Linked DNA regions of Homo sapiens. The protein of the gene in region 3 purifies or fractionates together with the protein of the main gene of each other region. This does not show direct contact. Each region holds a gene or a part of one and is shown on either strand. Other genes may lie near its edges.

Region 1 (2,726 bases), on a different chromosome or scaffold from region 3:
GGACCCAGACGTCCCCGGCGCCCAGCCCCCCTCTCCACGCCTCTCCAGCGCGCTCCGCTCTCGGGACCGCACTTACCGGGAACTCGCCGCCCGCGGGCCGGGGCTGCCGCGCTCGCAGGGTGCTGCGGGGACCCTCCTGCTGCCGCCGCCCCCGCGTCCCTCAGGCGCGCCTGGCCCGGCGCTGAGGATGCGGGAAGGGGGGCGCGCACCCTCTCCCCCTTCTACTCCCCCTGCCAGGGCCGCCCCCGCCGCCGCTCGGCCTCCTGGCGCGCCAGCCCCAGCGCCTCCCTAGAGCGCCCTCTCGGTCCCGGGCTGGACGCCGAGGGGGCGCGCCGCAGATTTGGGGACCCCGAATCTGGGGTCAAAGGGCAGTTTGACGCTCGTTTCTCCTGCGGGGCCGAAGGAGTGCCGGAATTTCAGCTAAACCCTGGTTACAAGGACTTCAAGCCAGGACCTGATCGGCCTGCACGCTGGGGTCCGAAATTCCCTTTCCAACCCCCTGGGGGTGTGTGGGTGGGTGATCGAAGTCGAGAACACCAGCGACACTTTTTTTTTAAACAAAACTTTATTGGTAATAGTTTTCAAATATGTTTACAACAGCACACTGTTCAAGAGGAAGTCTCGTCCTTCGCAGCACACAGGTTGAATCGCCCCCGCACCCACCCGGGGCCCCACCCCAGGCCTGAGAACTCCTCCTGGGATGGGGAGAAGTTATGAGAGGGGGAAATACGGGGATGAATGGGGTGGCTCCCCAGCGGCTCCCCACTTTTCTATTACGAGAGAAAAAAGCACAAATGAGAAAGTGGGGGAGAGGTGATGGACAGCTGACAGCTAAGCTGGAGGAGGGGCGCCCAGGATGGGGGAGGCGGAAGCTGGTGGGTGAGTAAAACAGGCAGCCCCTCCCCAGCAGCTCTAGCCTTGAACCCCGGGCCGTGGCTTGGGGGGACTTGGCCTCTTCTGTTCCCTTTTGCAGGGATGCCCTCCCCACTCAGCTGAGGGAAGGCTGGACGTTAAAATCTAGCGGAGAATAAAATTAAGGAGTTGGGGGGAAACGCTGCTGGGAGGAAAGACTTGGGCTTGGGGCTCCCCCTCTGTCTTTTTGGGGGATGACTCCTCTTTGGCAGGGAGAGGGGCAGCTGCTTTGTCTGGCTTTCAAAGCCCAAGGGTGAAGACAGGTCTGTTGGGGAAAAAGAGAGCGGAGGCTTCCTAAAGGGGCCTAGACCCTCGCAGGATTGGCAGAGAGGATTCCCCGGGGAGGGGCCCAGGGGAGATTAGCAGCGGGGAGGTTCAAACCCCAGCGCCTCCCTTTCCAAAGTCAGTCTGCTTCTCTTTAAAATGGATTTGAGGAATGGGGGGACATGGGAGGGGTGGGAGTAGAGGAAGGAGGGAGGGAGGCACTGGTGGAACTTAAATAAGATTTTAAATTGTTGTTTTTTTAAAAAAATTCTAGCAAGCAACCCACTGAACATGTCACTAAAAATCTCTCCTTCCCAGGCAGGATTACTCCGAAAGGAAGGTTGGCGCTTCGTTCATTTGCCCTTAGCAAGTGGGGCCTGTGGTTGGGTGGGATGGGGGTGTGGGTGGGGGCTGGAGTTAAGCGTGAGCCCCTCTTTCCATACCCTGTCCCTGGATACACCAGCAAGACCTGGTCTGACTGGAGTTGAGAAACTCGTTTAAAACAGGCAGAAGTGGGCTGGGAGGGCTGAGGGGCTGGGGGGCTGTGGGGAAAGAGGAAGGGAAAAGTGGGAGAGGGGGCAGGAGGGTGAAGGGGATGAGGGGGAGCAGCTGGTGTTTCTGTCCCTCTGATTATCTGGGCTTCCTGCTCCCCCTAACCCTGGAGGGTGGGGTGGGGGTGAAATTAGATGCAAGGAACTCTGGGGCCCTCTGGCTGTTCAATCCAACCCTCCCACCCCCCCGACCAAAAAAAAGAAAAAAGAAAAAAGAAAACCCATGGGGGCACAGGCATGCCCCTAAAACTCAGAAAACTCCTTGCCACACTTCTCATTGATGGAGACCCGGATTTCTTCTTCCTCATAGTCGTCAAAGTTACTCGTATCCCCAGGGCCTTTAAACTTTGGTATGAAGGGAGCTTCCACCTGGAGAGGGATCAAGAATCACCCAGACCTCAGCATTCAACATAATCATTATTACAACAATAAATGCGAATGGCCTAACATTCAAGAGATATTTACTCTGACTCAGGCCTGTGCTTACCATTAGGTTATGGATTCCTCTTAACAGCCCGAAACTCTTAATGTAGCAACTCATCAAAGGGGAAATTACTTCCCAGAGAGAGGCATCTGTTGCACAAGGTCATGGAATGGCCAAATGACCCCAGAATCCCATTTCTAGACCCCACTGCTCTAAGCTCTCTACTCTAGGTTGCTCCTGAACCTGTGTTCTCTTCTCTATTTCTCTATTGGCTGTCCTCCCTGACTCTTGGCCTGCTCCCAAACCCTCAGCAGGCTTAAGGAGGGGAGGCCCACCTTCCTCTGGTAGATGGCAATCCAGTCAGTTGTGGCAAACCACTTGTGGTTCTTGATATCGTTGACCCCATTCTTGAGGTTCCCAAAGCGCTTGGTGAGATCTACCTGCAGGAGGTTCCGCAGCAGGTCCTTCAAGTCAGAGCTGAAGTGGGAAGGGAAGCGCACCTGGAGGAAGGGGTACAAGGACAGGGTGGGAAGCTGGTCTGGAACTTGGGAAGCCCATGATGCTTCTTTCTCCAT
Region 2 (3,751 bases), on a different chromosome or scaffold from region 3:
ACATTTTGATTCAAGGAAGTATGCAGGTCAACAAAATACTTAAGAAATTTCTGGGATAAGAGGAGAAGCCAAGATGGCCGAATAGGAACAGGTACGGTCTACAGCTCCCAGCGTGAGGGACACAGAAGACGGGTGATTTCTGCATTTCCATCTGAGGTACCAGGTTCATCTCACTAGGGAGTGCCAGACAGTGGGCGCAGGTCAGTGGGTGCACGCACCGTGTGCGAGCCGAAGCAGGGCAAGGCATTGCCTCACTCAGGAAGCGCAAGGGGTCAGGGAGTTCCCTTTCCTAGTCAAAGAAAGGGGTGACAGACGGCACCTGGAAAATCAGGTCACTCCCACCCGAATACTGCGCTTTTCCCACGGGCTTAAAAAACGGCGCACCAGGAGATTATATCCTGCACCTGGCTTGGAGGGACCTACGCCCACGGAGTCTCGCTGATTGCTAGCACAGCAGTCTGAGATCAAACTGCAAGGTGGCAGTGAGGCTGGGGGAGGGGCGCCCGCCATTGCCCAGGCTTGCTTAGGTAAACAAAGCAGCTGGGAAGCTCGAACTGGGTGGAGCCCACCACAGCTCAAGGAGGCCTGCCTGCCTCTGTAAGCTCCACCTCTGGGGGCAGGGCACAGACAAACAAAAAGACAGCAGTAACCTCTGCAGACTTAAATGTCCCTGTCTGACAGCTTTGAAGAGAGCAGTGGTTCTCCCAGCACACAGCTGGAGATCTGAGAACGGGCAGACTGCTTCCTCAAGTGGGTCCCTGACCCCTGACCCCTGAGCAGCCTAACTGGGAGGCACCCCCCAGCAGGGGAACACTGACACCTCATAGGGCCAGGTACTCCAACAGACCTGCAGCTGAGGGTCCTGTCTGTTAGAAGGAAAACTAACAAACAGAAAGGACATCCACACCAAAAACCCATCTGTACATCACCATCATCAAAGACCAAAAGTAGATAAAACCACAAAGATGGGGAAAAAACAGAGCAGAAAAACTGGAAACTCTAAAAAGCAGAGCGCCTCTCCTCCTCCAAAGGAACGCAGTTCCTCACCAGCAACGGAACAAAGCTGGACGGAGAATGACTTTGACGAGCTGAGAGAAGAAGGCTTCAGACGATCAAATTACTCTGAGCTACGGGAGGACATTCAAACCAAAGGCAAAGAAGTTGAAAACTTTGAAAAAAATTTAGAAGAATGTATAACTAGAATAACCAATACAGAGAAGTGCTTAAAGGAGCTGATGGAGCTGAAAACCAAGGCTCGAGAACTACGTGAAGAATGCAGAAGCCTCAGGAGCCGATGCGATCAACTGGAAGAAAGGGTATCAGCAATGGAAGATGAAATGAATGAAATGAAGCGAGAAGGGAAGTTTAGAGAAAAAAGAATAAAAAGAAACGAGCAAAGCCTCCAAGAAATATGGGACTATGTGAAAAGACCAAATCTACGTCTGATTGGTGTACCTGAAAGTGATGGGGAGAATGGAACCAAGTTGGAAAACACTCTGCAGGATATTATCCAGGAGAACTTCCCCAATCTAGCAAGGCAGGCCAACATTCAGATTCAGGAAATACAGAGAACGCCACAAAGATACTCCTCGAGAAGAGCAACTCCAAGACACATAATTGTCAGATTCACCAAAGTTGAAATGAAGGAAAAAATGTTAAGGGCAGCCAGAGAGAAAGGTCAGGTTACCCTCAAAGGGAAGCCCATCAGACTAACAGCGGATCTCTCGGCAGAAACTCTACAAGCCAGAAGAGAGTGGGTGCCAATATTCAACATTCTTAAAGAAGAGAATTTTCAACCCAGAATCTCATATCCAGCCAAACTAAGCTTCATAAGTGAAGGAGAAATAAAATACTTTACAGACAAGCAAATGTTGAGAGACTTTGTCACCACCAGGCCTGCCCTAAAAGAGCTCCTGAAGGAAGTGCTAAACATGGAAAGGAACAACCGGTACCAGTTGCTGCAAAATCATGCCAAAATGTAAAGACCATCGAGACTATGAAGAAACTGCATCAACTAACGAGCAAAATAACAAGCTAACATCATAATGACAGGATCAAATTCACACATAACAATATTAACTTTAAATGTAAATGGACTAAATTCTCCAATTAAAAGACACAGACTTGGCAAATTGGATAAAGAGTCAAGACCCATCAGTATGCTGTATTCAGGAAACCCATCTCACATGCAGAGACACACATAGGCTCAAAATAAAAGGATGGAGGAAGATCTACCAAGCAAATGGAAAACAAAAAAAGGCAGGGGTTGCAATCCTAGTCTCTGATAAAACAGACTTTAAACCAACAAAGATCAAAAGAGTCAAAAAAGGCCATTACATAATGGTAAAGGGATCAATTCAACAAGAAGAGCTAACTATCCTAAATATATATGCACCCAATACAGGAGCACCCAGATTCATAAAGCAAGTCCTGAGTGACCTACAAAAAGACTTAGACTCCCACACATTAATAATGGGAGACTTTAACACCCCACTGTCAACATTAGACAGATCAATGAGACAGAAAGTCAACAAGGAATTGAACTCAGCTCTGCACCAAGTGGACCTAATAGACATCTACAGAACTCTCTACCCCAAATCAACAGAATATACATTTTTTTCAGCACCACACCACACCTATTCCAATATTGACCACAGAGTTGGAAGTAAAGCTCTCCTCAGCAAATGTAAAAGAACAGAAATTATAACAAACTATCTCTCAGACCACAGTGCAATCAAACTAGAACTCAGGATTAAGAATCTCACTCAAAACCGCTCAACTACATGGAAACTGAACAACCTGCTCCTGAATGACTACTGGGTACATAACGAAATGAAGGCAGAAATAAAGATGTTCTTTGAAACCAACGAGAGCAAACACACAACATACCAGAATCTCTGGGACACATTCAAAGCAGTGTGTGGAGGGAAATTTATGGCACTAAATGCCCACAAGAGAAAGCAGGAAAGATCCAAAATTGACACCCTAACATCACAATTAAAAGAACTAGAAAAGCAAGAGCAAACACATTCAAAAGCTAGCAGAAGGCAAGAAATAACTAAAATCAGAGCAGAACTGAAGGAAATAGAGACACAAAAAACCCTTCAAAAAATTAATGAATCCAGGAGCTGGTTTTTTGAAAGGATCAACAAAATTGATAGACTGCTAGCAAGACTAATAAAGAAAAAAGAGAGAAGAATCAAATAGACGCAATAAAAAATGATAAAGGGGATATCACCACCAATCCCACAGAAATACAAACTACCATCAGAGAATACTACAAACACCTCTACGCAAATAAACTAGAAAATCTAGAAGAAATGGATAAATTCCTCGACACATACACTCTCTGAAGACTAAACCAGGAAGAAGTTGAATCTCTGAATAGACCAATAACAGGATCTGAAATTGTGGCAATAATCAATAGCTTACCAACCAAAAAGAGTCCAGGACCAGATGGATTCACAGCCGAATTCTACCAGAGGTACAAGGATGAATTGGTACCATTCCTTCTGAAACTATTCCAATCAATAGAAAAAGAGGGAATCCTCCCTAACTCATTTTATGAGGCCAGCATCATCCTGATACCAAAGCCAGGCAGAGACACAACCAAAAAAGAGAATTTTAGTCCAATATCCTTGATGAACATTGATGCAAAAATCCTCAATAAAATACTGGCAAACCAAATCCAGCAGCACATCCAAAAGCTTATCCACCATGATCAAGTGGGCTTCATCCCTGGGATGCAAGG
Region 3 (3,751 bases):
TTCAAGCCTTGGTGACATGGCAAGACCCCGTCTCTACAAAAAAAAAAATACAAAAATTAGTCAGGCATGTTGGCACAGACCTGTAGTCCCCGCTACTTGGGGAGGCTGAAACAGGAGGTTGGCATGATCCCAGCCGATCTAGGCTGCAGTGAGCCATGATCGCGCCAGTGCACTTCCACCTGAGCCAACAGAGGAAGACCCTGTCTCTAAATACATATATACATATATACATACATACATAAGTACATACATAAATAAGTTTATTCCTAAGAACAACTGGAAAGGGCTAAGGGCATCCATTCTAGTCCTGGCTTAGCTACTAAAAATAGTATTAGCATCTTACACGTTAGTAAATGTTGACAGCTGCGTAGAAATCAACAAGTTACTTGACCTCCAGGCTTTCCTTTCCTCCTCATAAAAAGGGAACAAAAGTAAAATCCAAATTATTAGGGAGAAATGGACAAAACAAGTTAATAGTGTCCGAAAATGGATGAAAGGAGGAAGTAACCTCCACAAACATCTTAAACTTTATGAGTAAGGAAAATATACAGATATGCTAACAGGATCCTGAATTGCAAAGCCACGGCACTTAAACAAGGAACTGGAGTATGGCTCTTTTCTCCTTAACAATTTCCATTCCCATGCATTTCCTAAATGCAAAAACTCACTGTCATCATTCACTTAACAATTGTCAACATATTCACACGATTAACTGCTATTTATATAGTACACTTTAACGTTTTTATGCTTTTTATACTCTTCTATGAGTTTATCCTATGAAACTCTTGCAGAGGAGCACCTTTTCTCTAATTGGTTTGCGGACCCTTTTACCGAAAGTCCACCCCTAACTCGCTCTATCACAAAGTTCAGTTCACAACAAACGCTGACCTAAACTGGAAATTCATTCCGGGCGCTAGTGTAGACTTGGCGCCAGTTTTAAAAGCGGTCATGTCCAAACCTGGCAGAAAATCCTAAATGAGACAGTATGGTGGTTCGGGTGCTTAATATTTGTGATATAAGATAAAATCGAAATTTTACTAGGTTTTGTTTACATTTACCCACATCAACACCGTCGGAAGGAATGTGTACTGGCATGAACTTTGTGCAAAGGGTCACAGGATGAGAAAGGGAGAAAGAAAAGTGAAACTCGGGGATGGGCTCATACCCCCGCCTCCTGTCGGACCCACAATGCGTGCATTAAAACGCTTCGCTACAGGCAGCACTGATGTACACCCCGGTTGCACCGGGCTTCTCGGTGCTACCCTGAGTCCTTTTGGGAAGGAGGGAGACTCGGAGAAGGGCCGGCGCGGGTCAGGCCCTCCCAAAGTTCGAGCGCAGAGCAGGCCCAGGCCCCCGCGGCTCCTGTCGCCCCCGCCCCGGCCCGCTGGACAGCCCGGTCTCACCCGCTTCGGGGCGCTCCATGGTCGCGGCGCATGCGGGCGGCGCGTCTGGGCTGGCGGCAGCGGCGGTGGCGGGCCGCGTCCCGGGGCTGGAGGCGAGGCCGAGGCGGAGGCCAGGGCGGGGCTCGGGGCCTGAGGGCGGTGCGCTGGGCCGGCGCGGGGTCCAGCGACAGGCTGCGGGGGCCCGGGCGGCGGAGGCCAGGCCTGCGGAAGCGCGGAGCTTCCCAAGCCGCAGCCCCCGCGGCAGCGGCAGCAGCGGCGGCGGCAGCCGCAGCAGCCGCAGCACCCGCATGCCAGGCCGGACGCCGGAACAAGCCAGAAGGGGCCGACCCGAGTCGCCGGTGGTACCCGGATTCGGGCGAGAGGCGCGGACGCGCTCGGGCAGGGCGGGGGAAACTAGGGCCGGCGACTGCGGCGTCACGGCAGCCCAGGTCGTCTCGACTCTGCAATGCGACGCTGGGTCTTCGCCTGCCTGCCGAGCCCCGCGGCCTCCGACGGCCTTTGGCAGCCCTCATTTATTTCCCGTGGCGCAGCCTTGCCCCTCCCACGCTTTCAAGGGCGAGATTGGGACTAGGATGAAAGAATTCTCTGGCCTGGTGTCTTTTGAGAATCCATGTGCTTAGTTTTGCAATCAGGGTTCTGATTGCAGAATATTTGGGAAGAGCGAAATGTACAAGAACGAGACCTTGTACTTCTGTATAATGAGATACTTTATTTACCTTACTTTTAAAAACTGCAAATTGTGACAAAGTCTCTAATTTTTAACAATGATGTTATGTTTAGACATTAAGAGGAAACCAGTTGCTGGTTCTTGTAGTATAAGGTACTGCAGTGAGTAAATTGGGAGAAAAAGAAATTTACTTAGTTTAAAAAAATAAAAACCTTTCACTTGAAACGGAATGCTATTGGGATTGGTTTTAGTGCGAAGAAACCAGGGGTTAAGAACATTAGGTGCATCCGTCCACAAATTAGCGCCTTTCGTGAATAATAACACTTCGCTTATGTTGAATGCATCGTAGAATAGGGATGGAAGAAAAGAAGACCCCTACACAGCCACAACAGCTGGCGTAAAGGCTGCACACTAGAAGTCGGCAAACTAGTTACTCTGATTTTCAAATAATTCTAACACGTTGAGTTTCTGATGCCCATTTATGGGCTGGTAGGAAAGTACAACCAGTTCCCCTAATATTTATTTAATGCTTGAGCTCTGTGCTGAGGATGTGCAGGTAAGACAGGTCTTTTACTTATGGAGCTGATCATATAATAGCAGAGAAAGAAACATAAGTAACTGCGGAAATAAAAGCTGCAAAAATGTGGTCCACATTCATAGTGAAGAGGATGAGAATATGCCACCCCAAATATGCCACTTCAGCATAAGGATTATTCTTGAGCTTAAAACAGTTCAGAAACTAAAGACTCAGGAACAACTTTGACCTCCCCCTTTCTGCCTAAAAGCAGGACATAAATTTCCCTTCGTAAAGGTGACATAAATTTTTATTTTTAAAGCTTTACCAGGCCGGGCCCAGTGGCTCACGCTTGTAACCCCAACACTTTGGGAGGTCAAGGCGAGTGGATCACTTGAGTCCAGGAGTTTGAAACCAGCCTGGGCAACATAGCAAAACCCTGTCTCTACCAAAAATACAAAAATTAACCAGACGTGGTGACCCATGCCTGTAATCCCAGCTACTCCAGAGGCTGAGGTGGGAGGATCGCTGGAGCCCAGGAGGTGGAGGTTGCAGTGAGCTGAGATGATGCCATTGCACTCCAGTGTGGACAACAGAGCCAGATCCTGTCTCAAACAAACAAACAAACAACAAAGCTTTACCACTCACCCATACCAGAAAGAGGAGAATGAGTCTTACCTGCATAACAAACCCATACATTTTCTAGTAACCTTCCCATACTGCAAAAAGGCTAAGCCCCCTTTTCCTTTGTCTAGCCTCTCCACACTTTATCATCGTTAAAATGGTATAGAAGCCCCCAGTTCTAACTGCCTCTTCGGGCTTTTAGTTCTTTCCTGTGAAGCATCTATGTGCATGTGTAATAATCCTTTTCTCGTCTTAATCTGTCTTTTGTCAATTTAATTTACACAGTCCAACCTAGTGAACTAAATGGGCAGGAGAAAGATTTTTCTTCCCCTGTGGTGTGTACCAAGAGATATATGGAAGTTTCATTCTCTTACCTAAGCAGAGGTAACAGCCCAAATGCCACATATTTTTCACCACCAGTATTATGAATACAGAGTCTTATCAACACCTACCATGTGGAGGAACATTTTAATTACCCAAGTCTGAAAAAGGAATTTTTCACAGAGCTTCTTTTAGAAATGACAGGGAGAAAGGGAAGTACAA

What was found.
Region 1: the proteins of AKAP7 (region 3) and PRKACA purify together in Homo sapiens (affinity purification with mass spectrometry; 4 studies listed by BioGRID and IntAct, with this or other methods). This does not show direct contact.
Region 2: the proteins of AKAP7 (region 3) and PRKACB purify together in Homo sapiens (affinity purification with mass spectrometry; 5 studies listed by BioGRID and IntAct, with this or other methods). This does not show direct contact.

Annotation. Positions count from the first base shown.
Region 1 is NC_000019.10:14,091,142-14,093,867, forward strand, and holds the end of PRKACA (cAMP-dependent protein kinase catalytic subunit alpha), read right to left. Parts: intron 2,652-2,726; coding exon 2,487-2,651; intron 2,097-2,486; coding exon 1,971-2,096; 3' UTR 547-1,970; downstream 1-546.
Region 2 is NC_000001.11:84,231,249-84,234,999, reverse strand, and holds part of PRKACB (cAMP-dependent protein kinase catalytic subunit beta), read right to left. Parts: intron 1-3,751. UniProt on the Homo sapiens protein: Mediates cAMP-dependent signaling triggered by receptor binding to GPCRs.
Region 3 is NC_000006.12:131,133,435-131,137,185, reverse strand, and holds the start of AKAP7 (A-kinase anchoring protein 7), read right to left. Parts: upstream 1,720-3,751; 5' UTR 1,693-1,719; coding exon of another isoform or gene 1,423-1,692; coding exon 1,404-1,422; intron 1,317-1,403; exon of another isoform or gene 344-1,316; intron 35-343; exon of another isoform or gene 1-34. UniProt on the Homo sapiens protein: Probably targets cAMP-dependent protein kinase (PKA) to the cellular membrane or cytoskeletal structures.